Linked DNA regions of Homo sapiens. The protein of the gene in region 7 interacts with the protein of the main gene of each other region in a pairwise test. Each region holds a gene or a part of one and is shown on either strand. Other genes may lie near its edges. The genes, in order: TPD52L2, FAM167A, SH3GLB1, CCDC34, MAOB, AKR1C8 and COQ8A.

The links.
Region 1: the proteins of COQ8A (region 7) and TPD52L2 interact in binary tests that used the Homo sapiens proteins (3 or more experiments, as listed by UniProt).
Region 2: the proteins of COQ8A (region 7) and FAM167A interact in binary tests that used the Homo sapiens proteins (3 or more experiments, as listed by UniProt).
Region 3: the proteins of COQ8A (region 7) and SH3GLB1 interact in binary tests that used the Homo sapiens proteins (3 or more experiments, as listed by UniProt).
Region 4: the proteins of COQ8A (region 7) and CCDC34 interact in binary tests that used the Homo sapiens proteins (3 or more experiments, as listed by UniProt).
Region 5: the proteins of COQ8A (region 7) and MAOB interact in binary tests that used the Homo sapiens proteins (3 or more experiments, as listed by UniProt).
Region 6: the proteins of COQ8A (region 7) and AKR1C8 interact in binary tests that used the Homo sapiens proteins (3 or more experiments, as listed by UniProt).

The regions. Positions count from the first base shown.
Region 1 is NC_000020.11:63,867,884-63,872,101, forward strand, and holds part of TPD52L2 (tumor protein D54), read left to right. Parts: intron 1-1,412; coding exon 1,413-1,558; intron 1,559-4,218.
Region 2 is NC_000008.11:11,446,196-11,450,413, forward strand, and holds part of FAM167A (protein FAM167A), read right to left. Parts: intron 4,143-4,218; exon of another isoform or gene 3,805-4,142; intron 579-3,804; exon of another isoform or gene 208-578; intron 1-207.
Region 3 is NC_000001.11:86,711,076-86,715,293, reverse strand, and holds part of SH3GLB1 (endophilin-B1), read right to left. Parts: intron 1-4,218. UniProt on the Homo sapiens protein: May be required for normal outer mitochondrial membrane dynamics. Required for coatomer-mediated retrograde transport in certain cells. May recruit other proteins to membranes with high curvature. May promote membrane fusion.
Region 4 is NC_000011.10:27,356,442-27,360,659, forward strand, and holds part of CCDC34 (coiled-coil domain-containing protein 34), read right to left. Parts: intron 1,101-4,218; coding exon 962-1,100; intron 1-961. UniProt on the Homo sapiens protein: Involved in spermatogenesis. Has a probable role in anterograde intraflagellar transport which is essential for the formation of sperm flagella.
Region 5 is NC_000023.11:43,795,085-43,799,302, reverse strand, and holds part of MAOB (amine oxidase [flavin-containing] B), read left to right. Parts: intron 1-2,036; coding exon 2,037-2,178; intron 2,179-3,414; coding exon 3,415-3,564; intron 3,565-4,218.
Region 6 is NC_000010.11:5,153,935-5,158,152, forward strand, and holds part of AKR1C8 (aldo-keto reductase family 1 member C8), read right to left. Parts: intron 3,867-4,218; coding exon 3,701-3,866; intron 1,824-3,700; coding exon 1,741-1,823; exon of another isoform or gene 249-1,740; coding exon 206-248; 3' UTR 1-205.
Region 7 is NC_000001.11:226,946,627-226,950,844, reverse strand, and holds part of COQ8A (atypical kinase COQ8A, mitochondrial), read right to left. Parts: intron 1,363-4,218; exon of another isoform or gene 1,210-1,362; intron 1-1,209. UniProt on the Homo sapiens protein: Atypical kinase involved in the biosynthesis of coenzyme Q, also named ubiquinone, an essential lipid-soluble electron transporter for aerobic cellular respiration.

The DNA.
Region 1 (4,218 bases), on a different chromosome or scaffold from region 7:
CGCCTCAGCCTCCCAAAGTGCTGGGATTACCGGCATGAGCCACCCCGCCCGACCAGTTTTTCTTTTTTTTTTTAAAGAATTTTTTTTTGGCCGCGCGTGGTGGCTCAACGCCTGTAATCTCCCGGGTTCAAGTGATTCTCCTGCCTCAGCCTCCCAAGTAGCTGGGAACTACAGGCGCGTGCCACCACGCTAACTAATTTTGTATTTTTAGTAGAGACGGGGTTTCACCATTTTGGTCAAGCTGGTCTCGAACTCCTGACCTCATGTGATCCACCTGCCTCGGCCTCCAAAAGTGCTGGGATTATAGGCATGAGCCACTGCGCCTGGCAGTAAGCCTGTTTCTTTTCAGAATGTTTTGGTCAACAGGGAAAGTGTTACAATAGTCATGTGCTTGGATTTGGAGAGAATCGAAATAGACTGTTTTTCTTTATGTGAAATCTTGTAGACTTTTAGGGTAGTCAGGAAGATGCATTTGACATGAAGAAAAAACAGTGGCTGCAGGAATTTGAATGTGATCTGGGTGTAGTTGAGGTGTGTGGTGGCAGCACACCGCTCTGCACCTCTCTGCCTGCTGGCGGCCTTCTGGCAGTGGGATGAGAATCGGGAGGTAAGTAAAGGGAATTTTGTTTTGCTGCCTCCCTGAAGGAGCTGAATGAGCAGCATGTGCTCCTAGTACGTAATTTTAGCATGTGCTCTGTCAGATGTGTTGAGAGGAAAGTGATGCTTATTGTGTATATTAACCATATTAGGTTCCTTTTTTTAAAAAAAGTGGAAATTTGTCAGGGTATGGTGGCTCACACCTGTAATCCCAACACTTTGGGAGGCCAAGGCGGGCGGATCACCCGAGGTCGGGAATTGGAGACCAGCCTGGCCGACATGACGAAACCCCGTCTCTACTGAAAATACAAAAATAGCCAGCGTGGTGGCGTGCGCCTGTAATCCCAGCTACTCGAAGGCTGAGACAGGAGAATCACTTGAACCCGGGAGACGGAGGTTGCAGTGAGCTGAGATCGCACCATTGCACTCCAGCTTGGGAGGCAGAGTGAGACTCCATCAAAAAAAAAAGGTGGAAGGTCTGTTAGATTGAGCTGCTTTCTCTGTAGCAAGGGTTTCCTGCCTCTGACGATAGTATTCTCACTGGGAAGCCAGAATTCGGGTTTGCCTGCCTTGGGCCGGCATTTGTCGTGCCCTGAAGCAGCACAAGTGGCATTGGCTTTTCAGCTCAGGTGGTCTGAGGTGTGGCTGCCCTCGTCTACTGCCCATGCTGTCCTCACAGACCTTTCAGAGAAGAGGTGTTAGTCTCCAGGGTCTCACCCACTCCCACCTGTGCTTTTGTCCTGCTAGAGACCTCTACCGTATTTACTTGGAACTAACTTATTTGACACTTTGTGGCCTCATTTTGTCTCTGGCAGATATCAACCTGAATTCTCCTAACAAAGGTCTGCTGTCTGACTCCATGACGGATGTTCCTGTCGACACAGGTGTGGCTGCCCGGACTCCTGCTGTTGAGGGTCTGACAGAGGCTGAGGAGGAGGAGCTCAGGGCTGAGCTTACCAAGGTGCTGTGGCTTGGCTGTCTGTCCTGGGGTGAATTGGAGTTAAGGCCCTCTTGGATTAGTGAGAGGCCAGGGTACTGGCCACGCTCGGGAGGAATTGCCCTGGGTGGTCACCTACCCTGCTCTGTGTTCCGACTGATAACGGGGTTCTCTTTGTATGTGCCCAGCTCCATGCACTGGACTCAGAGCCACCTGGCAGTGGAGACAGGGCATGACTCCCTTCCCATACCTCTGTGCCTGGCCCTTCCTAAGTGCTCCCTGAGGAGTGTTCACACATGAACCGCCTCTGAGCAGCCATCTGCTGGGAGTGTCTCTGTTGGAATTAACACTTGATAATCATTTTTAAGACCCCATGAATCTTTCTTGTCCTGGATCTTAAGTTTTCTTTTAAACATATTTATTTTGGCTGGATGCAGTGGCTCATGCCTGTAATTCCAGCGCCTTAGGAGGACAGGGTGGTAAGGTGGGAAGATCACTTGAGCCCAGGAGTTTGAGAGCAGCCTGGGCAACACAGTGAGACCTTGTCTCTACCCCCAAAAATTAGCCAGGTGTGGTGGCATGTGCCTGTAGTCCCAGCTACTCAGGAGGCTGAGGTGAGAGGATTGCTTGAGGCCAGGAGGTCAAGGCTTCAGTGAGCTGTGATTGCATCCTGCACAGCAGCCTGGGTGACAGGGCGAGACCCTGTCTCAAAAACAAAACAAAAACTTCTTTTCTAAAAAGTATTTATGTGATCTTCTTTAAGTGAGAGTCCCTTAAGAGTAATGTAGGAATTAAGAACAAAAGCCTCCAACCATAATTTTTAGTCAAACCAACTGCCAAGAGTTTTCTTTTCACCCTGTGATGTGGTTTAATTCCAGAATCTGGGTCCAGGCCTAGGTCTGAGTAAGGTTGGTTGTGCCGCTGAGTCTGAGGACCAGGTTTCAGATCCTGAGGACATCACACAGCTATTTCTAGCCTAGAAGATTAAAGGAGAGTAGCAGGAAGTCCAAGGACACTTTGCTTTCCATTTAACTTCAGAATATGTGAGTTTAGAAACTAAATCCACAAGGTTTTTTTCAGAGTTGAATTACAATAAGGTGAAGTTTTTTTTTTTTTTTTTTTTTTTTTGAGTCGGAGTCTCTGCCGCCCAGGCTGGAGTGCAGTGGCGCAATCTCGGCTCACTGCAACCTCCAACACCCGGGTTCACGCCATTCTCCTGCCTCAGCCTCCTGAGTAGCTGGGACTACAGGCGCCCACCACCACGCCCGGCTAATTTTTTTGTGTTTTTAGTCGAGATGGGGTTTGTTTTTTTTTTTTGGAGACAGAGTCTCGCCCTGTCGCCCAGGCTGGAGTGCAATGGTGTGATCTCGGCTCGCTGCAATCTCCGCCTCCCAGGTTCAAGCGATTCTCCTGCCTCAGCCTCCCGAATATCTGGGATTACAGGCGCGTGCCTCCCTGCCCATCTAATTTTCGTATTTTTAGTAGAGACAGAGTTTCACCATGTTGGCCAGGCTGATCTCAAACTCCTGATCTTGTGATCCACCCACCTTGGCCTCCCAGAGTGCTGGGATTACAGGTGTGAGCCACTGTGCCCGGCCCCTACAAGGTGAAGTTCTGTATTGCTTTTTTTTGTTGTTTTTCTTGAGACAGAGTCTTGCTCTGTCGCCCAGGCTAGAGTGCAGTGGCGTGATCTCAGCTCACTGGAGCCTCTGCCTCCCTGGTTCAAGTGATTTTCATGCCTCAGCCTCCCAAGTAGGTGGGATTACAGACGCCTGCCACCACACCTGGCTAATTTTTGTATTTTTAGTAGAGACAGAGTTTCACCATGTTGGCCAGGCTGGTCCCGAACTCCGAGTCTCAAGAGCTCCACCTGGCTCAGCCTCCCGAAGTGCTAGGATTACAAATGCGAGCCGCTGTACCCAGCCAAGAAAGAGAATTTTTTTTTTTTTAAGGACGGAGTCTCACTCTGTCGCCCAGGCTGGAGTGCAGTGGCGTGATCTGGGCTCACTGCAGCCTCCACCTCCTGAGTTGAAGTGATTCTCTTGCCTCAGCCTCCCGAGTAGCTGGGATTACAGGCGCACAGCACCATGCCTGGCTAATTTTTGTATTTTTAGTAGAGACGGAGTTTCACCACGTTGGCCAGGTTGGTCTCGAACTCCAGACCTCAGGTAATCTGCCTGCCTCAGCCTCCCATAGTGCTGGGATTACACGCAAGAAAGAGTTTTTTTTTTTTTTTGAGACTTTTTGCTCTTGTTGCCCAGGCTGGAGTGGAATGGTGCGATCTTGGCTCACTGCAGCCTCTGCCTCCCAGGTTCAAGTGATTCTCCTGTCTCAGCCTCCCGAGTACCTGGGGTTACAGGTGCATGCCACCACGCCTGGCTAATTTTTGTATTTTTGGTAGAGACGGCCTTTCATCATATTGGTCAGGCTGGTCTCGGACTCCTGACCTCAGGTGATCTGCCCGCCTCGGCCTCCCAAAGTGCTGGGATTACAGGCATGAGCTATCGTACCCGGCCAAGAAAGAGAATTTTTAAAGAGAAGCTAGTCATATATGAGCTGAAGATACTGAGAACTCATTCTAAAGTGGTAAAGCTTTGAATGATGCCCCTTTCAGAGGTCATGTTCTTTTTTTTTTTTTTTTTTTTTAAAGACCTGAGAAAGTTCAAGTCTTCATGATCAGGAAT
Region 2 (4,218 bases), on a different chromosome or scaffold from region 7:
GCACGCAGACGCTTAAGAAAGGAGAGCAGAACTTTCCAGTCCAGACGTTTTCCTCAGCCCCAGCCTGTGGTGGGGATGTGAATGGAGGACGTCCTGCTGCCCGACCTCTGCCGCCCTAGGCTACGAGCCTGCCCTAGCAAGGGGCATCCATGGAGAATGAGAAGGAATAGTCCACCCCAACTGGTAAGCAGAGAAACCCGCTGTCACCTCCAGCTCTGCTTGGAGCAAGCGAGAATCCCCCTGAGGAACTGGATTCTGATTCAATTGGTCGAGAGATGGGACTTAGACAGCAGTGTTCAGCTCCCCCGATGATCCGAGTGTGCAGCCGGGGTGGAGAACCACTGTCTCCAGATGCAGACACTAGAGTTGGGATCAGATGGCCTAGCTCTACGTCTTGTCAGGCTTGCTAAGTCTCATTTTCTTCATCTGTAAAATGGGAGTGATAAATACCAACCTCCTATGTTCTAGCAGATTGGCAGAACTAAAATTCACCGGCACTCTCTGAAGACTTAGCACGCTAAGTCCGCAAATGCGAAATGTACTCATGGGAGTCTCCTGTGCAGTTTCACGGTCAGAATCTGTCCAAATCTAAAGACTTATCAGCTGCTTTCTGGGGCCCCTCCCAGGCGCCGTCTGCCTCTTTGCTGAGGTGCCAGGATCTGTTTTGAGCATGTCTGGGGCAGCTGCACCTACAGGGCTTCCTTCTCCCTGGCAGGGGAGCTCTGATTAGATCCATCAAAGCTTCCTGGAGAGGATTCAACTGCAGGCGGATGAGCAGCACCCTCCCGCCCTGAGTTCTGTGAGGAGATAACATGGATGAGGAGCCCTGGTGGCCCACCCCCTCCCCCACCAGCAGGCTCCCACTGCAGAGGTGAGGGCATCCCACTGGGCTACCACTGCTGGGTGAGGGGCTCCTCTCAGGGTAGGAAACTGCTACAAGTCTGTAACTGTATTGCAGACAATTTATTTCAATTATTGGTTTCTTTTCTTTTTCTTTTTTTTGAGACGGAGTTTTCACTCTTGTCACCCAGGCTGGAGTGCAATGGCGTGATCTTGGCTCACTGCCACCTCCACCTCTTGGGTTCAAGCGATTCTCCTGCCTCAGCCTCCCGAGTAGCTGGGGTTACAGGCAGCTGCCACCATACCCAGCTAATTTTTTGTATTTTTAGTAGAGACAAGGTTTCACCACCTTGGCCAGGCTGGTCTGGAACTGCTGACCTCAGGTGAAGGCCTGCATAGACCATGTCAGGACCATCTGGTGGCACGGGCATTAGCCCCTGTGAACTGTGACCAGCTAGTGATGGTCCTCAGATCTGCTGAGCTTGGTGAAGTGCAGAAAACACAGTGTGCACATCTGCCCATGTGAGCCCCAAAGTAGCCCCCAGAGGCAGGCGGGATCACCCCATTTCACCAAGGAGAAATCGAGGCTAGGGCAGGTGAAGTGCCTCACCTCCTGGTCACAGGCAGGTGCCAGCAGCTGGACCTGGGCACAGTCATTTGACTCTGTCTCAGCCTCTTTCTACTCTGGAGAGTGTGGGCTCTGGGTTAGAGCTCCAGGGCAGCCATTGGCTTTGTGACGCTGGCACATTGCTTCATGACCACTCTGGGCCTCTGTGTCCTCTTCTGAGAAATGAGAACAACCGGAACGACTACATAATTCACAAGGCTCAGTATGAAACGAAGATGCGGGGCTCCTTGTTTAAAAAGTTCTAAGAATTGGCCGGGCGCCGTGGCTCATATCTGTAATCCCAGCACTTTGGGAGGCCGAGGCGGGTGGATCACGAGGTCAAGAGTTCAAGACCAGCCTGACCAACATAGTGAAACCCCGTCTCTACTAAAAATACAAAAATTAGCTGGGCGTAGTGGCGCACGCCTGTAATCCCAGCTACTTGGGAGACTGGGGCAGGAGAATCGCTTGAAACCAGGAGGCAGAGGTTGCAGTGAGCCAAGATCGCACTACTGCATTCCAGCCTGGGCGACAGGGCGAGACTCTGTCTTAAAAAAAAAAAAAAAAAAAGTTCTAAGAATTTCAAGACAGGGACAGCAGAGCATGAACCCACACGAGGGGCCCTGTGCCACTGCCCACAGCCATGAGGCTAGTTCTGGGGATAATAACATCTACCTCGTAAGTCCTAATCAGGGATTCAATAAGGTTACAAATGTGAGCTCTCAGCACACTGCCTGGTCTACAGGAAGCCCTAGACATAGTCATGTAGCCTTAGTCATGGTTTTTAAAATGTCATTATTAAGATGACATAACCTATCAGAGTTATATCACCGTCACATGACAGATCATGACCCTCCAACTGCACTGAGCAGACACTCTGTTGGTCTCTGACCTGCTGGGTGGCCCAAGACAATCCCTGCCCCCTCACATCCTTCCCTGGACACCAAACGACACGAAGTCAGTTGATCCCACCTCCCCCAGATTTTCAGGTCTCAAAACTTAGTGGAGTCTGTTCTGCCATAGAAGGGAGAGAACAGCTCCACTTACTAAAACCATTCCATGCCTGCTCCCTTCCCTCTCTGCTCACATTGTGAATGCCCCGCCCACGGCTCGGGGTGTTGGAGAGACTCCACCCTGTGCTCTCTGCATGGCAGACCAAGGCCAGGCCCCAGAAGCCTGGTTTCTGGTCCCAGCACTGCTGACAAGCCGAGCACCCAGGCTCAGTCCTTTCCTCGTGGCCTCAGTTCCCTAATCTGTGCAATGGCTGAGGATCTATGGAACCTGGTATGTGAGAGCTCTCTTTAAACTGTAAAGAGCTGTACCCACCTGAATAGGCGTGTGTGCAATGTGGAGAGGCCTGAGTTGGGGAGTCACTATTTTAGAGCAGGTGGTCACCCGTAGCTGGCAGGAACGGGATTGCCCCCAGCACAGCCAGATGGTGAGGAGCTGCTGCAGGAATGGGATTGCCCCCAGCACAGTCAGACCGCGAGGAGTTGCTCAAGCAGCATGTGTTTTCCTGGTCGTCAGTGTTTGGGGAGCACTGTCCCCCTGGGTGCCCTGGTGCCTGAACAAGCCCAAAGGGGTTTCTTCCCTCCCACTAGGCACAGGAGCTCAGCTGGAATGTCACCCACACAGGCGCAGGGACGTGACAGCAGAAAAGCTTGTCACTGCTCACTGGGCACTGAGCTGGACCCGGCCTGAGCCGGCAGAGAGGTGCTGGCCGGGTGCCGGGGAACAGATGCCAGCACTGGGCAGCTTCCTGGGCTGGAAAAGCAGTGGAGGCCTCCCCTCGCTTGACAAACCAGGGACTCCTGGGGCCCAGGCCCCGGGAGGAAGAGCCCCCCAACACTCTAAACAAACGGGCTTTCTTTACATGTAACCTGGGTCGTTCCTAGGGGTGGAGGGGCCGGAGAAGGAAGCCAAAGGACGCTGCCAGACCTGGGACCTAGGGTGTCTAGAAAAACGACATCAGACCCTGTAATCCCACCAGGCCCAGGCACGCCCCGCCAGGCAGGCCACCCAGCAGCAGTGGGGACAAGCCCTTGGGGGGGCGCGTCAGCCTTTCTGCAGCTCTGTGTGCCAGTGCCGAGGACCCATGCCACACACAGAGACTGCTGTTCCAACAAGCTCCCTGGCTCCCAGGCCCACAGCGGCTCCTTGGAGGAGCCTTCGCCAACCATGAGCTAACTCCTCTGGCTGCTGGAGGAGCCAGGTGGGGGCAGCTCAGCCAACACCTTGTCTCATTATGACCTAATCTGTTCACCTGGAAAACGGTCACATCCACTTCCTCGATGGGCTCCCAAGGGCAGGGGAAGACGCAGGCACTGCTGACCCATCCCCTCCACACCTCCTCTCACCACGCGCTCCTGCTGTTCCTTCCAGCCTCGCATTCTCCACTAGAACCCTTTCGTTTCTTCTCCATAAGACACAATCTTTCCAACCCCGACCCAGCACTCCTGTCCCGCCGGACACCATGCTCTTTCACACCCCTGACTCGGCACAAGCTTTCCTCCAGCCTGGAAAGCCCTTCACTCCCTTCTGTGCCTTAGTTCAGTTCTCAGGGATTTTCTCCTGGGGGAAGTTTTGCTTGATTTGCCCAGGCTGGGCTGTGTGTACCCAGGACAACCCGAGCACATCAGAGAAACAATTATGTCATCGCAACATTAGCTAATGCTTACAGCACACCACACGAGCTGTGGTGCTAAAAGCTTTACATGTATTAACACATTTAATCCTCACAACAGCCCTATGAATCTGGGGTATCATCATCC
Region 3 (4,218 bases), about 140 Mb from region 7:
TAGTACCCTCTATTATAAAAGAGAGACAATACATATTTTATAGTGTTTGGGGGATTAAGTATGATTGTGTATGCAAATCACTTTGTTTGGTGCCTTGTAATTATTAAGTTTTGAAAGAGCTGTTAATGTTTATTGTGGTTTATGTCTTATTAGCACTTTAATCACACCTAGTTAGATAAATAGTTTCCCAGAACATACCATAAAACCTGTCATTTAAGCTGCTGAGGATATGTTCCAGCAATTTATTTATAGACTAACTTTTGGAACATATCCTATTCATACTATGAAGACATCTTTTAAAGGTCATAAAATGTGGTTAAACGTACTCAATGAATCAATTTTTATTATTGAATATACTGGTATTTGAGAAAAGGTAGCACTGCCTATATAATAATAAAGCAGTAAAAAGATTCTGTGTAGATCTACAGCCTTCTGGATACTTTTAATTAAACATTAGAGGTGATGACTCAAGCTGTTTATCATGCATCATTTTCCTCTAGAATATGTGGCTTCCTCCCATCTTAACACAGGTATATCACTAGCATTAATTCTGTGCTCAGTAATGACTCACTTCTGGCTGACAAAACAGTGTTCACCTTGCCTTTCTCTCCTTTCGTTTCTCAAAAATCTCGTTTGCTACTCTATTTTCTGAGTTTTATTGTTTCTTTCAGCATCCTTCTTCTTGGTTTAATACTTTCAGGTTATTATCAACACCTTAAGCTGAAGGATCCTCTAGAATTCTATTCTTAGACTTCTGGTTACAATCTCCACTGAGGCTCCTGTTTAGGGGCTAGAAATAACAGCTTAAATAGCTTTTGTAAAGCCTTGGGTCTTTTTGAGAATGGTCTATAGCCAGCCCCTGACCTAGTGGGTAGAACCAAAAATAGCAGTTACAAAGCTATTGCCTAAGCCCATAAACTTGCAGTGTAGCTGGAGGACTGGGCACTGAGCAAAAGCAAACCCTGATCCCAAGGCCAGCTGGATAAACTATGCAACCTCATTCTTAACAGAGAACCCCGTAGTCTTTACAGATCCCTGAAGATTCTAAGCAACAGACCTCCTACTAGACTTTTACATGTTCAAAGTCTACCACCAATGGCTAGATAAAATAACTCCCAGATAAAGTGACCAATAGGAAGGGAAGAAAGGGAATACCTTTCACTCAGGTGAACATCACCTATAAAGAGTGATCTAAAAAAAATTCACTTAGCCCCTTAAAAATTGAAACTGCATGCATAAATTTCCCTTTAATAAGCAAGTTTATCCATTTGTTTGTTCATTTTGTTTATTCCTTCAACAAATACTTATTAAGCACCTACATATGTGCTAGGCACTCTTCTAAACACATGGGTTTCAGCAGCCAACAAAACATATAAGGTTTCTGTTCTTAGGAAGCTTACATTTTAATGGCAAAGACAGACAATAGATAAATAAATAATCTGATAATAAGGATATAAAGATATGAAGATGGTAAAGCGGACCAACATGGTTGGTTTGTTTCTGAGTGACATACAAATCCAAGTACAGAGAAAGAATTCATTCTTCAGGGAGAGGAAGAGGGAGAGCAGGAGAATCAGGGAAGGCTTCAGTGGGGGAGGGATGGGCAACTTGGGCCTAGAAAGGGGAGCAGGAGTTTGAGGAGTGTGAGATGCGGGTAGTTAGAGAAACAGCATCTCTGAGTAGGTAACAAACGACCTGTGACTGAATGATATGAACTATGTTAAGATCTAAGGAAAGAGTGTATAGTCCTGATGATTTATCTTCCAGTTGCACAATTTCTTTAAGCTCATTAGCATCACCCTCACACATATTAAATATTAATTTCTCTGTGGAAATCCTTAACTTATAGTTAATAACCAAGAATAGATTAATAGAAAAATCAACAGATCAATAATTCAAAATCAGTACTTATGGCCAGGAGCAGGGGCCCCCGCCTGTAATGTCAGCACTTTGGGAGGCTGAGGCAGGCAGATCACTTGAGCTCAGGAGTTCTAGACCAGCCTAGGCAACATGGCGAAACCACGTCTCTACAAAAAAATCCAAAAAATTAGCCAGGTATGGTGGTGCACACCTGTAGTCCCAGCTGCACTCCACTGCACTCCATTCTGGGTGACACAGCAAGACCCTATCTCTAATTAATAAGTTAATAATAAAATAAATAAATATAAAATAAAATAGTCACTGAATTTATCTGATACAAACTGGGGTTCAGGGCAAGTTTTCTCCCGACAGTATTTCAGGAAAATCAGCAATTAGAAAGTTAATTATTTGGAAAATAAAACACTTCAATCTTCAGGTAAAAAGGCCTGTTTGCTTAATTATTTAACATTTTCTTTGTGACTCTCATGATACTACCTCCCAGGTATCTCAATAAATATATATTCTTTTTGAAAAGAGTATGAAAGTATAACAGAGCAAAGATGGGTATTTGCACCAAGTGATTTATTTGTATGAGTCTGAGGAAGAAAGAAAATATGTTAACTGATAAAGATTCTACAAACACACACAATTAGTAGGTTTTTTTTTTTTAACTATTTTAGTTCAGAAGATACATGGAACCCTTACACATGAGTGAGACAGTCTAATTACAGAAAACCTGTTTAGAAAATAGCAGTACTGTAGGGTCACATGACAATGTTTCTATGTTTCACATTTCAGCACATCCATTTACATCTTTCTCATACTTCTGTGTCAAGGCTTAGTGTATGTTCAAAAATTCCATTAACTAAGCTGTGCATTCTACAACAAATACTCGAAAGAATCTTAAAATAAAGTAAGAATAATTGTAGAGATTAATAAATTGAGACTCAGGGTGATTAAACACTTTGTCCAAGGTGTCATTGTTGGGATTCAATCTCACATCTGTTTGAGTCATAGTCTTATCATGCTATACTACCCTTCCAGTAAATACTTGCTGATTTCCAAAATTAGTATTTTCTATTTCTATTACTATTATCCAATCATATTCTGTGCTTCCTTTCTCCTATGTCTGTTCGCAGCACTCTGGACAGCTTTCTCCCCCAGATCACTTCTGCTTTCTACAAGATATTCAATAATTATTCACCAAAATTAGTAAACTAAATCCTATCATGAATGAATAAAAGGGAGGAAGACACACAATAAGGACATTGCTAATGCTATCATATTTTAAAATTGAAATTATAAATTTAAATCTTATTACTTAAATATATAATTGTAAAAGACATAATATTTCCCAAATTTTATCATTGGTGGAAGCAAAAGGATTTTTCCATAATTAATCAGAAGTACACTTTATTAAGATAACAAATACAATATTTAATACATTTTCTCTAAAGCACTGTAAATAATGCGTCTACTACAGACACTAGGAGTCATCTCAACTAAATTAATATTTAAATTACTAATCAAAAATATTTATGGCTTCTACAGCAAGATGATCAGCATCTGATGTACTTCTTGCCCTCAAGGATTTTATGATCTACTAGGAGAATACTGCCTTGACTCAAACAAAATTATAATAATGGCACCTTTTCAGAAGGGCAAAAGACCTATTAATTCTTTCTTTTAAAAAAAGATCCCTTTCCTAGTTACCAAAAAATTTTAAATTAACCCATAAAAATTTTAGTTTTCAACATCTTCAAGTCAAAAATCATTACTGATTTTGTAATCTCTTGATAATAGGTATTAATGAGAAACTAGTTGATTTTAAGCATATCTTTTAATGAATAGATGGCAGTATAGTTTAATAATTAAGAACTTTTGTGTAAACAACCTAAAATAAAAGGCAAACTGTAAATAAGCATCTTCTTAGTAAGTCATTAAACTCAATGTTTTCTAAAATATAATTTGATACCTAATTTTTTCATATTTCATTTGTAATATGGCAAAGTGGCATAAGAATAAAAGTTTAATCCCCTTTTATATATTTTCTCTAAATATTGCTTTGCGGAAAGAATTGTCTTTGAGTCGGCTACATTATACCAGGCACTGTAATCCTTCTTTTACTACAGGATAGGCATATAACCCACATTATTAAATAAGGAGCCTGGATTCCAAACTCTACTTTTAGAAAAAAAAAAGACTACAAATAAAATGGGTGTGTGATCAAAGACATCTATTTAATGCAAACTCTAATCACCAGTATTACTAAAGGGTAATACTCTAAAAGTAATTTAAATTTCTTGGAAAATATGTAACACAGATTCTGAATAATGTATTAGTAAACTGTAAGGTGCA
Region 4 (4,218 bases), on a different chromosome or scaffold from region 7:
CCATTTTTAAATGTTATAAAAATGTTTAATGATAGAGAAAAAGAGTTTTATCCTGTTTCATTAAAAAGAAGAAGTGTCCCTCATCATTCAAATCTATCTGGCTTCAGTGTTTGGATAGGAAGAATTCAGATAGTCTAGATAGTGGGTTTAGGGGATGCCAAATTATCCAAATCTATTTGGTTGCCATGTTCTGAAACAGTAAGAGTTCAAAAAATATGTGAATATTCTCATTAAAGAAGAGATGTGAAAATGCATCTACAACTATTTATTTTTTGAGTTCATATAGTAAAAGTTCAAAAGAGACTCACGCATGGAAATGTCCATAAGTGAGGGAGGCACAGAGAAACTGAAACACCCTGAAAGACTAGCAAGCAGTTTCCCACCGCCCAGCACATAGGGCACATGCTCACTGAGTGACACACGGTGGGGTGGGGTGGGGTTGGGGGTGGTGGGGTGGGGTGGGGTTGGGGGTGGTGGGGTGGGGTGGGGTTGGGGGTGGTGGGGGGGGGCAGGTAGATTCTTGCCTCTATTTTGTTTCAGTAAAGTTAAAAATTTTGCCGAGTGTATACAGTTGAATTTACTTTAGTTAAATGTACATATGTTGATGCTCCAGTGTATGTAGACATACAACTTATACATACATTTGTACGTATTTCAAAATAATTTACATAGAAGAAAATCTGGAAAGCTATGTCATAATACTAACAATGATTATCTTCAGACAGTGAAATTAGAAGAGATTTTAATTTTCTTAATTATGCTTAGCTGTATTTTCCAAATGCTCTAACAATGAACATATTTCTATTATTATAACTTATTAGTTATTAAATTTGATATAGTAAACTAACATAAATGCAAAGACTTTGTTTTCAGGAATAATAACATTAACATTTTAATTTACAACTGCAGCTCTACTTTGTGAGCTCACAGATTAAATAAAAAGAACACTGTCTAGTTTTACCTCTAGAGCTTTCAGTTGCAGCCGGTCACGTTCTTCTTTTTCTTTGCCAATAAACCACACCTCCCATGGTGTCAGGCGGCTTTCTGGTAAGCGCACCTGTTTCTGTTCTTCTTGGTTATTTTCTGATTCAACCTGAGTGCTACAAAAGAGAGGCTACTATAGTACTTGTACAAGAACCTCTTTTGCTTCCTAGTCCAAATCACTTAACTGTACAGTAAAAGCAAAACTTAATAGTGTATTTTCAATATTGTGATTTTTACAAATATACAGGAATTATACATAAGTATACATTTAAAAAATCATGAAAAGAAATTCTAATATTTGAATTAGTTTACCTATCAAACTGCCTTTGAATTCCTTCACCTTCTAAAACCACGTTATTTAAAACCCCATTGGGATAACCCACACCCTATACATTTGCCTCAATGCCAACACTTTTTTATTTCTAAAAATCTTACCTGGATAACTAATTACTCATTACAACATATAATCCTAATCAGATACTGAAGCAGACTCTTCCCTTTCCCGCCCTTAAGTAGTTCAGGAAAAAAAGATTATGTAGTGCACACAAAGAGAATAATAGAGCAAACATGTAACAATTAGGGACTGTGGGTGAAGGGTAAATGAAAGTTCTTTATATTATTTCACCTTTTTTATAAGTTTGAAATTGTTTTGAAATAAGAAGCCACAAAACATTCTTTAACATTTTGGTTGACACCCTTTTGCCAATCCTTAGACAGGGTGTGTATGACTCTCTAGTCTGGTTACCTCCTACCATAGTCTCCATCTCCACCATGCACCTCTGTCAGTCTGTCTCTTCTGAGGGTAAGGAAAAATAACAATTCAGGGTAAAGAGAAGAGGGGCAGGGAAATAAGTATATACATAAATAAAGAACACAGGGTCTTGGCCAGATACACAAGCCTCATGAAACTGAGAAAAAGCTTAACAATCAGCAGCCATAGAAAGCAAGGTTGTTCAGGACATAAGGTAGCTCTAAAGACTAGTTTATTACAGACTCAGTTCTTTGTCTCTTTCACATTCCTGCTTATAGCAACCAATTGCTTCACCCACTGCTTTGCACAACTTTTCTACTTCATAGATTCAGCTTACTCATTATTTTCTGCTACTATTATTTCTTCATTCATTCATGCCCTTATGAAATTTGCATTCTAGTGGGAAAGAGACACTGTTGATGTGTTATTTCTTATATGCGTCTTTCCTTCCCAGTCTTGCAGAAGGAACCCATCTGCCCCCACTGTAGTGCAGTTTCAACTACCACTACATGCTGATGATGTCTATATCAGTAATTCCAGGCCAGACCGTCATCTTGAGTTCCAGATCCTTATTTCCAACTATGTGATACATAACTCAACTTAAATATCAATCAGTTGAAAACAAATCTAATCATCCTCTACCATCCACCCACCACCCTTCCCACCAAGAAAGTATACTCCTCTTACAATCCTACGTCAGTGAATGTTATCACCCTCCAGCCAGTTACTCAAGCCAGAAGCCCTAGCTCTTTGACTCCACCTGCTCCTTGTCAACATGTGGACCCCCCCCCCCCACCGCCACCACCTCCCATACCCACATGATCACCTAGTCATGTTAATTCCTCTTTCCATTTTTGAAAGCCATTCTTGTTTCCTCCAACCTTACAACCACCATCTGGACAAAACTGGCCTCCCTTTCTCCCTTTCAAATCATTATCCACACCTCTTGCCAGATTCATCCCTCAAATGTTATCTTTCTATCATGTCACTCCTCATCTTAAAGTTCTTCAATGGCATCTTTACCCACAGGATAAAATCCAAACTCCTTAGCCTGACACCCATGAATCTGCCCTTTGCCTATCTTCCAGCCTCTTCTTTCACCAACGGCTGATCCAGACTCTACATTTCACTCACTAGGAACCCCTGCAGGTTGATGAATGTGCCACGCCCCATGCCCTGTAACTTTCACCTAAATCTGAAATTCCTTTCTTCCACCTCCGCATAAAGTCAGATTAAGAGCTTAGATTTGGGCGTAAAACAGCCTGGGGTGAAATCCTATCTGCTTCTTCCTAGCTATGTACATTTTTTTTCTTTTTTTTTTCTTTTTTTTGAGACGGTGTCTCCCTCTGTCGTCTAGGCTGGAGTGCAGTGGCGCGATCTCCGCTCACTGCAAGCTCCGCCTCCCTGGTTCACACCATTCTCCTGCCTCAGCCTCCCGAGTAGCTGAGATTAGAGACGCCCGCCACTACGCCCAGCTAAGCTATGTACATTTTTTAAAAAACTTCTTTAAGCTTCTGTTTTCTTGTCTATAAAATGGAGATGACAGTTGTGGCTGGCTACCTTACAGGCAGAATTGCATGAAACTATCCATGCTAAAGCACTTAATATAGTTCCAGGCACTCAGTAAGTACTTAGTAAGTCATTTATGACGAACTCCTACTGTCCCTTCAAAATTCAACTCCAGCACTGCCTGGAGCCACAACTCTTGGGCTTCCTGTCACTTGCTCATCTCTGCCACAGGTCATGAGTTCCTTAAAGAAAATATATCTCAACTCATTTTTTTATTTCAAGAGCCTGGCTTAGGGTCTAGAATATAGTAGGGTCCTAGGAAACAGTTGTTGAAAGACAATCAGATCAGTGGGCTTTTCTTTTAAGAAATGACACTTTGAATATTAAATTTCCTTCCTTAATATTTATAACAAATGTGTTCAAAATGTGTGGCGCACACACTACAGCTCTACTTATAATCAAGAAAGGCTTGACAAGTGGCCATTTGTGAACAAGATATTTATTACAGCATGGTTTTCCTAATGGATAGTGGTAGAAAAACCAGGATAAAGCTGAATAAACAGCAGGCCCAGAGCACATTGTAAAATATTCCAGGAAAACGCTTCTCATTATCTTGTCTGAAGCTAACTTTGAGCTTAATCTCAGTTCTGACCAATACCCTTGAAGGTCAATGCATCCTCTAAACATGGCACTATTTATACCAAAAATACCTTGAGGTAATATCCATTATGTGCAGCTGATGCCTGAGCCTAGCTCAAAGAAGCCTTACCCGATTCGTTTTGCCAGTCAGATCAATATGGCAGGTGAGGCATGGAGAAAAGGCATAAAATCCCACACAGCTCTAGGTTGCTCTCTGCTTCACACAGAATACTCAAAACCCAGAACAATGAAAGGGCTGACTCAGGTTGCCTGCTCTCTTCATCCTGTCACCCCCAAGCTGTCCAGGGCACCAAAGAGAGGTCAGCAGTTTGACC
Region 5 (4,218 bases), on a different chromosome or scaffold from region 7:
AGTTAGATATTACAAATTGCCTCTGCAAGGAAGGCATGAGCTAGCAATTTCCATCCCTTCAATTATCCTGAGAAATCTTACAAAACTAACTGTAAGTCGCTTTAATGTATATATGACACCATTTCACAGGCTGTAATGATGGGGACTGTCATAGACGGGCTGTCAGGTTGTTACAGCTGCAAATAATGTCAATAATTGGTATGTGTGTTAGGCATGATTCTACAAACTTCTAGGGTCAAGATACAGTAAAGTAGAGAGATGCCCCTTGGTGAGTAGCTGCACTTCCAAGGCTGTCAGCTGACTAATTAGAAAACATTTTGAGGTATCAAAAGCACGAGTTTTGCGTCAAGTACGATCTGACTTGAAGTTGTGTCGTTATATATTCCTAAACTGTCCGAGACTCCGTTTTCTAGCATGTGAACTGTGGAAAAATAATAGATATTTGATACGGTTGTTGCAACAATTTAACAAGATAATGATTTTAAAGACAATGGAGTGTGGAAAGAGTTCAATAAATGGAAGACAATATCATTTATCCCAACCATTGTCAGCATTACCAGGTGGAAAATGCTGCCTCAGATATAACAAGATTAACAATATGCAAACTTCATGTCAAAGTCAAAAGGGGAATTGGACCTTATTAAAGAAATCCCAGAGTGCACACTACTACTGATGAATTTTATGCTGTGCTAGATATAATGGAGTCCTCGAAATTGCATGAGATAGTTTGCTTTCTGGTGTGCTTCCTGATAGGTGATAACCTCTCACCATTTACCTGCCAATGTCAAGCAAAAGCTTACCCATTTATGCTCTATTAATTGTTTGTCCCCTCATCCATTATTTGAGCTTGTCTTCTGTTAGGCAGTAAAATAACTGAATAGATAACTGTGACTAATTTTGTGTTTGGTACAGCACCTAGCATATCCTTTGCATGTTATGGATGTTTAAAAAATTTTGTTTAACTGATATTTCTCATCAATCATTCATTCGTTCAATCATGCAACAAGTAATTATTGAGTGCTTACAATGTTCCAAGCACTATTTTGTTAAAGGGGACACTATGGTGAGTGAGAAACAGAAGATCCTTGTTCTCATAGGTTGATATTCTAGTGGGGGGAGACAGCAATTAAAAAGAATTAACCAATAATCAAGACAATTTCAGACAGTGAAAAGAGTTATAAAGATACTATACAGTAGCAAAATGATAGAGAATGTCAGGATGCTGGGAATATGGAAGCCAGTGGTCGTTTTCATAGACAAATGTGAATATGTCTTTCTAAGGAAACATTAGAGTAAAAAGAAGAGGGTACAAGATGAGACAGAAAAGGTAGGCATGGGCTGGATCACATAGGGCTCTGGAAGCCATGGTGTAAGATCTGAATCTTATTCTGGTTTTAATAGGATACCACTGGAGACTTTTTAAGCAAGAAAATGACATGATTTGATTTATACTTCAGAGAGAGCATCATGGTAGGGAGGGAGGGAAAAGCCTCTGGCTTTGAGTGTGGTGAACAGATACCAGGTGAGGATGAATGGAGGCAGAGAGGCCAGTCTGAAGGAAGTAATTGCAGTACTCCTGGAAAGAGATGGATTCTAAATTTGTGGTGAAGGTGGAGTGATGTGGTGAGAGATAATGGGACTTCCCAATGAATTGGATGGGGGAAGATTGATGGAAAGAGAGAAATAATGTTTGATTTCTAGAGTGTTGGTTTTTACCACTGAGTAAATGATGGTGCTTTTTACTGAGATGGGGATCACTGGAAGAGCAGCAGGAATGTAAGGAGAAATCATGAAAGCACAGAATCTGGAATAGAAGCTGATTCTGAGTAAGGTGTTTTGTTTACAGGGAAAATAATCTGATATTTCAAAAACCTCCGATGTCACGTTTTGTAATATTAGATTCTAGTGACAATTTTTTGACCTTACCACATTGTTTTAAACTTAACCAAGAAAATGTGTTACTTAAATAATTTTTAGAGAATTAAGAAGCTGCTCTCCTGCGTTTGCCAAGTTTGCTCTTGTTTCTTCCTGTGCAGATCTGCAAAGCAGCTTGCCACTCTCTTTGTGAACCTGTGTGTCACTGCAGAGACCCATGAGGTCTCTGCTCTCTGGTTCCTGTGGTATGTGAAGCAGTGTGGAGGCACAACAAGAATCATCTCGACAACAAATGGAGGACAGGTACCCATCCATTCTTCCACAGTCCCAATGGAAAAACACTGCTACTGAAATGAAAGATCATCATCCTTCAATCATGAACTGCTGAAGTGGGAAGCAGGCTTGTGGCTTTTAGAGCATTACCATGGCAGCTCAAAGTGTTTCTTGTAAGGCAGTCTGTTGTCAGGTACCCACTGTGAGAACCCAGTGTCCAATGTAATTTTAAAGCTAGGCTTGTCTCTCTTTATGCACTGTGGCCATTTTCCATACGCTCAATTATTATTTGGTAAGTTTGTAGGAGACCATCTGAATTAAGCTTAGCTTGAGCACTTCTTGGAAAGCTTATAAAGGAAATTCAGTAATGCATTTTCAATTTAAAACACACACTATTCATGGAATTCATTTATCTATTCATTCATTCAATGCCCATTTCTTGAGCCCCGGCACTGTATAAGGCACTGTGCTAGACACAGTAGGAACATATTGGAGTTCTTAAATAATCTGCTTGGTTGTCATGTTCCATTCTTCTCTCTCCCCCTCCTCCTCTTCTTTCTTTCTCTTCTCCTCCTCCCCCTCCTCTTTCTCCTCCTCCTTTTCTCTTTCTCCCTCTCCTTCTCCTTCTCTGACCTTAACTGAAAATTGAGGAGGAGGCAGCCAGGTCAACTGTGTGCATAGCCAGGTAGAACATTTGGAAGTTTTAGCAAGGCTGAGGGCAGGTGGGTACAGTGAGGTGAAATGAGTTCGGTGGCTACAGAAGCAGCAGGCATCTGACCCAGGATAAGATGGGCAGCCTGCAACAGGGAGTAGGCTGGCCTGGGGGAAGGGGACATGGTGGGAGGCAGGGAAGTTCTGCGCTTGAGCCACAAAGCAAGGGGAAGCAGGCTTAGGTCTGCTCAGGCAAGCTAGGGAAGAGCTTTAGGTACAGCTTCACCAGTTCCAGCTCTAAGCAAAAGACTGCAGATAGGACAGAGAGCAGGGATGGTGACCAGAAAGGTGGGATACAGGGGTCATTCTGAAGATGTCCAGCTAAGGTTGGAGTCTGGGAATCTACAAGAGCATAGCTTGTAAAGTAACTTAGAAATCCTGTAACTTTGTCCAAAGACAGCAATTCCTACTTAGAAAACCATGGTGAAAGCCACTATTCACTGCAGCAAAATGAAATGTTAGACATCTCAGAGTAGACATATGTGAGGACAACTAAGAATTTAGCAATTTATGCCCATTCCTGCGTTTCTCTTTCACCTCCTTTTCTCTTTCCAGGAGAGGAAATTTGTGGGCGGATCTGGTCAAGTGAGTGAGCGGATAATGGACCTCCTTGGAGACCGAGTGAAGCTGGAGAGGCCTGTGATCTACATTGACCAGACAAGAGAAAATGTCCTTGTGGAGACCCTAAACCATGAGATGTATGAGGTAACTGTGATATTGTGAAATATATATTTGATCTTCATCCCAGTTTCCTGGCATACAACTTTAAAAATTCTTAGAATCTCCAGAGTGATGTCCTTTGATGCCAATGATTGATGGCTGGCAGCCCCTAGGTAGCTTCAGGATGGGGCTGGTCACAGGAAAGACCATGGAAAGACTAGAGGGTTGGGACTTTCAGCCCCACCCCCAGCCTCCAGGGAGGGGATGGGGCAAGGGGCTGAAGGTTGAATTGATCACCAGAGGCCAATGATTTAATCAATTGTGCCTACATAAGGAAGCCTCCATAAAAACCCAAAACGACCGAGTTCTGGGAGCTTCTGGATATCTGCACAACTGGAGGTTCCTTGAGAATGGCATGCCTGGGGAGGGCATGAAAGCTCCATGCCCTTTCTCACAACTCTTGCCCAATGCACCTCTTCCTCTGTACCCTTTGTAATATCCTTTATAATAAAACAGTAAACATGTTTCCCTGAGTTCTGTGAGCCACTGTAGCAAATCAATCAAACTTGAAGGGGTTGTAGGAACATCAACTGGAAGCAGATTGGTCAGAAATTCTGGAAGCTGGACTTGTGACTGACATCTGAAGGTGGGGGACAGTCTTGGAGACTGAGCCCTCAACCTGTAGGATCAGAAGTTATC
Region 6 (4,218 bases), on a different chromosome or scaffold from region 7:
TTTATTTTTCTAAAATTTATGGGTATTACTTTAATAATCAGGAAAAACAAACATCTTCTTGTTAAAGTCTTCATTTCATAAAATAAAGAAAGGCAAGCAACCTGCAACTACAGATCCTACTTCCTACTCCTCTATCAAATACTGAAATCCTCTCTCTGTCACCTAAAAGGAGGAAATTGTGGTGGTAATGTTCAATAGCTCATGGTCAATATTCTTCAGAAAATGGAAAATAAGGGTGATTAGCAGCACTGAAAGAGAAAAAATATTAATTTAGTAACTTTTTTCCATTCTGTCAAAGAGTTTTTCTGAAGAAGCACTTGGGATGGGCTAAAATTCCCGAATTTACCACCACGTCCCTACTTGTACCTCGGCACACATGGTTTAATCTATGGAGGGGATGAGATGCATTTCTAATACCCACACCTGAAAAACACAATTATGACTTATTTAAATATAATCATAAAGATACTTGTTAGTAATTAAAATTACTGTTTGTTTTCCTTTTTATGTTCATTTTTCTTTTTTACAATTTGTTCTTTTTAATTGGGTGACATTAAAGAGTACCTTCTAAGCAGTTAAATGTGCCAGGAGTCATATTGACACAGGGCCACAGACATGAGTAAGACAATGCATTCACAGTCTCATAAGGCAGATCACAGACTTATACTTAGCCTCTGGGTACAGAAAAGTTACTTCCCACATTTTTCTCATTGAAAATGTTTCCTCTCAGAATCTTGGTGTGGTTTTACATAAAGGAGGATTCTTCAGATCTTTTTTGGAGACTGAGTCTTTACTCTGGCAACCAAAATTGTATTTCCCCTGCTTCTAAACTTTCCTCTAAACTCCTCTCTATTTAGCCTTCTCTCTCCTTAGTCCTGAGATCCTGCAGTAGTTGAGCAACTGGAACGTCACGTTTATAAATAAACCAAAGTCAAGGGATGTTGGGCTCTCCAGAGGTGGACTTCAGGTGGACAAAGATGACACTGGAGTAAGAGTCATGCCTTGAGGATCCAGAGAAACTCCAAAGGATCTTATCTTGGTAAAGGCTATTGACACCTCAGTCACTAGCATTTGAGGGTCTATTAATCTCATAATTCATTCACAATTCAGCATGGTGAGATTATATAGCTGAGGAAATGGGAGTTGTGGTAGGTAAAGAGGGCCAAGAAAGACATAAATTTTTGCAGAAATAGTTGGTATCCTGAAGAGGGAATACCACATTAAGGCTTCCCTAGGAGACAGGCACCTTTGCCTTCATGGGCCCATCCTGTATTAATACTTAAATTGTGTTTCCATTGCCATGATGTAAACACAAAGATAGAGCTGGATGGAGTCATTATTACATATGCATTATTATTGTATTCATTTTTCTTCTGATTTTAATATAAATTAAAGAGAACGTTATGATGGGCCCCTATAGGTTTGTAGGTCCTACACACTGAGCCTTCTAGACTCATAGGCAGTGGGCCCTGAGTGCTAGACCCAGGCACAGATAGTAAGGGCCTTCAAGAATTGGATTCACAATGGTGCAGACATTGGCAGTTTCACTTACAGACACATTTCTGCTGGGTCAGAGATTGAGTCCTGGAGGAAACCTCTGGTCTGAAGGCTACAGGGCATCTCCTATTTCACCCCATGCCTGAATTTGGGCCTGTCTTCCTGATGTAGGGAAGATGTGTTCCCCATTTCCCTGCATACTACAGAAAACAGCCTGTGAGAGAATCTACAAGCATCACTTACAATTGTAACTTGTCATATCGGAGATTTCTGTTGAGGCCATCAATGGCTTTCATGTCCTCTGGAGTCAACTCAAAGTCAAAAATCTGAAAGGAAGAAAACACTCACATTAACCCCTCCCCAGGGCAGCAGCTTCTACATGGGAATACAAGGACTTTCCAGGAGGCAGAGGCAAGGATGGCATTGGGGGAAGCATTTTCATCCTCATCAGCTTCCAGGTGCATGTGGCTTGAGACGTCTTCCACCTGAGACCTCTTCCACCTTCATTCTGCCTCTTCTCCATCCCATCCCTCTCCTACTGGGCTCCACTTCTCAAAAGAAAGGTGTGCACTCATCAATCTAAAATATTTATTGAGAATTGCTTGAGGCAGAAAAAGGAAATCCTTTATTTTAAAATAGAAAATAAAGTATGCAAAATAACTGCCACCTGGACATGTCCACACTTGGTCAGGGATTTGTTTCCTCACTTCCCGTGGAACCTGATCCAGCCTTGGAATGACAGAGCCTTAGAACACAGGAAACTCCCACTCAAGAATCTGTTTGCCTCAGAAAAAGCATTTTCTGGACAACTGTTCTACTTGCTCACCTCAGGACCCCTAAATACTATTTCCAGCTGTGTTTGCTCTTCCTTATAAAAAATGCTTACTAATTGATCTTTGAGACACTTAGATCTTATGTTCAAAGAGTTCTGCATTTTTAATAAATCTCTCTTACTTAAGTCAAGAGTAGTTTTCATTTGTCAACACATAGTCCCTGATGAGGAGCCCATTAATAGTAAAACAGATATTTTTTGGTTAAAAAAAAAATGCTACTTTCATTATGTGATCCAGGACACAATTTCATGAAAGACTCAGATCTATCTATCTATCTATCTATCTATCTAATGTATTTATCTCTTTCTCTATATGTATCCGTCCATCTTCTTTCTATCTACCAACACATTTATCCACCACTCTTTTTAAAAATGTACTTCAGAAGTTATATGGTTGTCATGAGAGCAGGTATTAACATTTTGAATTGGATCAAAAAATAAAATGGGCATTTTTTGTTTAAGTTGTCACAATGAGATTTAGATTTACCTATTTAATTTTTCCACAAGTTAATATACTTAATCTAGAACTACAATATTTTGAAATAAATACATTATATATGACTCAAATGTCATCTCTTGTAAATATTAAACTCATAATAAAATTTGTAGCTGTCATTTTAAAATGAGAAACAGCTTACATATTTTTTCAAAATTCTTGTGGGATTCAAAACAAAATAAGTTGGAGACCTGTGATTAATACAAGGTCCAGAGTGGATGTGGAGAAGGGTTTACAAGATAACTTCACTCCTCAATTTCTTAGTTTGGTTGGTCTGTAAACTTATGCCTAGTTTCATACCTGCTAGAGTCACTGCCAGGGGAAGGGTAATAAAAGATAATCCAGAAGGAGCCATTGTATTTAGGTTCTCACAGTCCAGAGAGCACACTGAAGTATTAGCAAATGATGTAAAATTAATAAACAAAAAACTCACTAACAGAGTCATGCCAGGCCAGGGGCTTTTGTGGTGAAAACTGGCCTGGGGTGTCCCAGTAGTTTAACAGAGCAGCTAATTTTATTTGGGTTTGATTTTAAAATACAAATAGGCATTTATAGGTAGAGAAGGTGAAGGAGAAGAATCAGGGTCCTTAAAGTTCATTACCATGTAGAAGAACTCCTGAAACGGATGAAAATAAGTGAGTTGAAATTTGCTTAGTGTCAACCAACTAGTAAGTGGCAAAGCCAAGCCTAGAGATGATAAACCTGAGGACTCTGAGTTCAGTGCCCTCTCGTCGATCCTTCCACACTGCCCTCCTCCCTTAGCACAGAGTGGAGAGCACAGGAATGAATGACACGTGTCGCATTCTCCCATGTAAGAGAGATCGCCCAGATCAGCACCCATGGCTCACTCTGGAGCGACTCTGCTCAACCTTTACCTGGAAGTTCTCTTTGATTCTCTCCTGAGAGAAGCTCTTGGCCAGCACCACCACTCCCCGCTGCAGCTGGTAGCGCAGGGCGACCTGGCCTGGGCTTCCACTGTGTTTCTTGGCAATGGATTTCAAGATCGGCTCCTCCAAGAGATGTGGGCAGTCGGGATCCACCCTGTTGGGGAGGGAACAGACACAGATGTGAAGGATGCAGGATGGAAAATCTACAGTGCGCTGCTCCTTTTCCCCAAATTCTCCAGAGAGTTGAGAGGAGTGGGCACAATACAATTTGATTTAAAACGGTCTGATAACTATTCATATGGATTCATTCATAAATGCAGTGAACTGGAAACAATAAGGCTGTCCATTAACAGGTGAATGGATAAACAAGTTATCCATACCCTGGAATAACACCCAGAAATAAAATGGAAAGAACTACAGATACTCACAGCTACATGAATGCAGCTCACAGATATGGTGAAAGAAGCCAGGTGCAAACTAATGCACATGATCTCTTTCATAGGAAA
Region 7 (4,218 bases):
TACATTCTTGTGCTAATAACATAAACAAGAGCTTGTTGAAAGCAGGCACTGAATCCCATACTGCTAATTTTTTCTTAAAAAAAAAAGCAAGCAACTAGGCACTGACATTCTCCCCCATGAATGAAACCAGTTTCACAGATGTTTTCATTTTGTGAGCAGCAGAACCAGCCCACCATGCCAATGATAACTACAGCTGCTTTTGCTGGGTTTAGTATATGCCAGGCTCTGGGCTCAGTGTTCTACTTAGCACAAAGATGTATTAACTCAATCATTTTCAAAAGGTAAATTATGCCCATTTTACAGATGAGGGTGCTAAGGCACAGAGTGGTTAAGTAATTTGCCCGAAGTCACACAGCTTTTAAGAAGTAAAGCTGGGACCTGGATCCATCATGGCTCAGGAGCTAGGCAACCTGTTTAACAGGTAAGAGGAGAAAAAGAGCAAAACAGTGTGTTTTTGATGTCCCAGGCTGCAAACCTCCATTCTCCATCCATTGGAAGATTAAGATATTCTTAGGATTCCCTGGGTGAGTTGCCCTGTGGTGAGCACTGGGTTGGGAGCTGGGCAGGGTTGGGGGTGATATAAAAGCAGCAGAAGGCAAAGTTCCAGCCTCTGATGATAGTCCAGAGAAGGACCCAACACTGTGAGCGAACCTGCATGGGCTCAGAGCTCCAACCACAGGCAGGCAACAGAGGGTCCCAAGCAGCCTCTCCCACTCTGTGAGTTGATATAGCCGATGACACACAAGGCTTTTAAAGGCCAACCAGCCAAGCGCAAGGTCCTGATGGCAATTTAGTTTTCTGACTAAAAACCTAGTGAAGTTTACTGCTTAAAACATTTAAATTAAAATATTTGGCTCAGGAAGTGATACTGGTGACATGGTTAAGATGCTCTGAGGTTAGGTGATCTGGGTTCACATCATGACTCTGCCACTGACTTGCTAGTGTGACCTAAATCAAGTCATGTGAGCTTATCTTTGTGCCTCAGTTTCCTCATCTGTTCTTGAAAGGACTGGATAAATCCATGTAACAGCATTCAGGACATATAGTAGGTGCTTAAAAACCATTAGCTAATGCCATTATTATTAGTAGTAGTATTGCAAGCACACAGACATTCTGGAATGAAGTTCAGACTTGGTGAGACCAACGGTTAGGGTGAATGGGATCAGTCTGGATAACCCGCAGTTGTTCCTGCCAGGCACAGTCTCATACCTGAGTTGGGAGGAAGGCTGGGCTGGGGAGGACCAGTGTGGTTTATTTAGTGCTGTGGTATGAGGCATCATTCAGGAGAGGCAGTCCAAAGTGCTGGCAGCCTGCTTCGAAACCAGGGACACAAATGTCCACTGGTATTCCTTACCACTTCACCTTAAAGGAGAAAACAGCATGGGAGGCTTTTGTCCAGGTACATTCAGGGAGAGGCAGTTGGGAAGAAAACCCCTCTAACTCCCACAAGCTCCCCAGCTCCGAGCCATGGAACACTCTCCTGCCAGATTCCTCTCCCTATAAAAAAACCCACGTTCATCATGCCAACGCGTTGCTCAAATGGCTCCTCTACCTGTAGACATGTATGTAGACATATATATAAAACCCAAACTCCTGCGCCTGAAGTCCCAGGCATCGAAATCAGGCCCCCGGCCTCCTTTCCAGCCTCCAGCTACGCGCGAGCCATGTGAGCGCACTCCACTCTGCAGGTCCTACTTTCTCAGGCAGGCCCGCTCGCCCCTTCATCTCTGTACGTCTGAAAACCCACCCATTAGCCAAGGGTGAGGGCCTTGGGGCCTTGGGGCTGGGAATCAGCTCTGCCCTGACCAGCTGGGCTGCTCCAGGCATATTCTCGAACCATCTCTGACCTGTTTCCTCTCCTCGAAATGATGGTATAAGTTATTATATTGTCCAATATAAATGGAGGGGTGGGTGGATATACTTTGAAATGTGTTAAAGCACCATATAAATTCAAGAACGTATTCCTATTCAGGCCCTTGATTCCCAGCTCTTCCATATTTACGTTCTCCTGACAGCTGATCTAACTTGCTGGTCAGATTCCTACATTGTAAGTTACTCTTCTTCTTGCACATGGACCTCTCTTCTCTTCAAACTATAAGCTCCTTGTGGGAGGCTCTTGTCTCAGACAACTCTGACTCTTCCCACTCCACCCACACACACAGAGTGATCCACCCACACAAATTACAAGCGCAAGCGTTGACTGAATTCACGAACCACTGCCACCCAGGAAGGTAATTAAGGATCCTAAAGTTGAGGTTGAAGGGTTTCTTTCAACGTTTCTTTCAGACGCTTACAGGGTTGTCTTTAAATCTGGCCAAAATACTGTGGGTGGCTGTGGTAGGCTGAATAATGGTGTCTCAAAGATACCCATACCACAATCCCCAGAACCTGTGAATGTTACCTGCAAATGGGACTTTGCAGATATGATGAAGTCAGGGATCCTGAGATGGGGGATTATCCAGGTGGGCCCAATGTAATCACAAGGGCCCATATAAGAGGGAGGCAGGCAGGGCAGAGTCAGAACGAGGTGATGGGAGACAGAAGTGAGGCTGGAGTGATGCCATTGTGAGGAAGAGGCCACAAGCCAAGGAATGCAGGCAGCCTCTAGGCTGGAAAAGGCAAGGGGTCGGGTCCTGCCCTTGAGCCTCCAGAAATGAACCAGCCCAGCTGATACCTTGATTCTAGCCTAGTGAGACCAATTTCAGACTTCTAACCTCCAGAACTGTAAGATCATACATTTATGATGCTTTGAGCCACAAACTTTGTGGTAATTTATCACAACAGCCATAGGAAATTAAAGCAGATCCTTGGGTTGGGGAGAGGGGCTGTATTCTAGAATAATTTCCAGACCATTCTTCTAAATTAACTTTGGTCACTCCACAAATACTACTGAATGCCAACCAAGTGCGAGGCACCAAGCTGGGTGGTAGACTACCCCACAGACAGCTCAGTGCATTCCTGTTCTTAATGACGGAGTCCTGTTGACTTTCTCTATATTGGGCCCATACTACATGCCAGGCAGATAGATATATATATATATATATTTTTTTGAGACAGGGTCTTACTGTTGCCTAGGTTGGAATTCAGTGGCATGATCACAGCTCACTGCAGCCTCAACCTCCCCAGGCACAGGTGATTATCCTGAGTAGCTAGGACTACAGGTGGGTACCACCACACCTGGCTAATTTGTTTGTATTTTTAGTAGAGACAGGGTTTCACCATGTTGCTCAGGCTGGTCTCGAACCCCCGACCTCAAGTGATCTGCCCACCTCGGCCTCCCAAAGTGCTGGGATTATAGGTGTGAGTCACCGTGCCTGGCCTCGGTTTTATATTCTTAATCTTTCAAAACACTTTTACTTCAGGTTTAATATCTCAATGAAATAGGAATAATAACAAGAACAGCTACCATTTATTATTCCCCTCTGTCTGCCTGTCACTTTATATTACCTCTAGTTCTTACAAAGACCTGGTGAGGTATTATCCCCACTCATTGATAGGATAATTAAAGCTCATCAAGGCTGAGCAATCTCCTAAGGGCCAAAGCTGTGGGATGCTGGACCCTTCCACACCTGTCTGACTCAGGCTCCAGTCCTTTCTTCTTACTGCCTAGGAAGCTGAGAGATAGCAGAGAAGAACACTGCCCCAAATCAATAACTCCTTTTTTGTTAAATCAATAGTCACTCAATATGAGACATCAGCAAGGTTTACATCCTGAAATGTGTCTTCCTGGTTACAGAAAATTGAGTCATAAAAATTCTGGGGCCAGCTGGGCTCTCAAAGGCCATCTGGCCAAACTCCCTGCTCTGGAAAGTTTGTCAGCTGCCAGGACTGAGGGTATCACAATTCTCAGCACCAGTGATCCTACCCACTAGAGGCAAAGCTTGGTTCCAGAGCCAGTTTGATCTTAAACATAAATAGTGGAAAGAGGCAGACGCCCTACACTGAAGACTGCCTCTGGGTGTGCAAGAGCTAGGAGGAGCCATCGGGCACACGGCCCTCAGTCTTGCCACACTCAACACCAGCACCAACCTTTATTAGCATCACCTCCAAATGCCACACACAGGCCAGGTGTGGACATGCACACATCACTGGTATGGAAGTTAAATAAACATGTTCTGCCCTGAGGTCACACACAACCCTTAGGCACTACATGTGTATGTAAAACCTCGATAGCTTTTAAAATCACCCAGTTAACCCAGACAAGGGGCAATCCTAGAC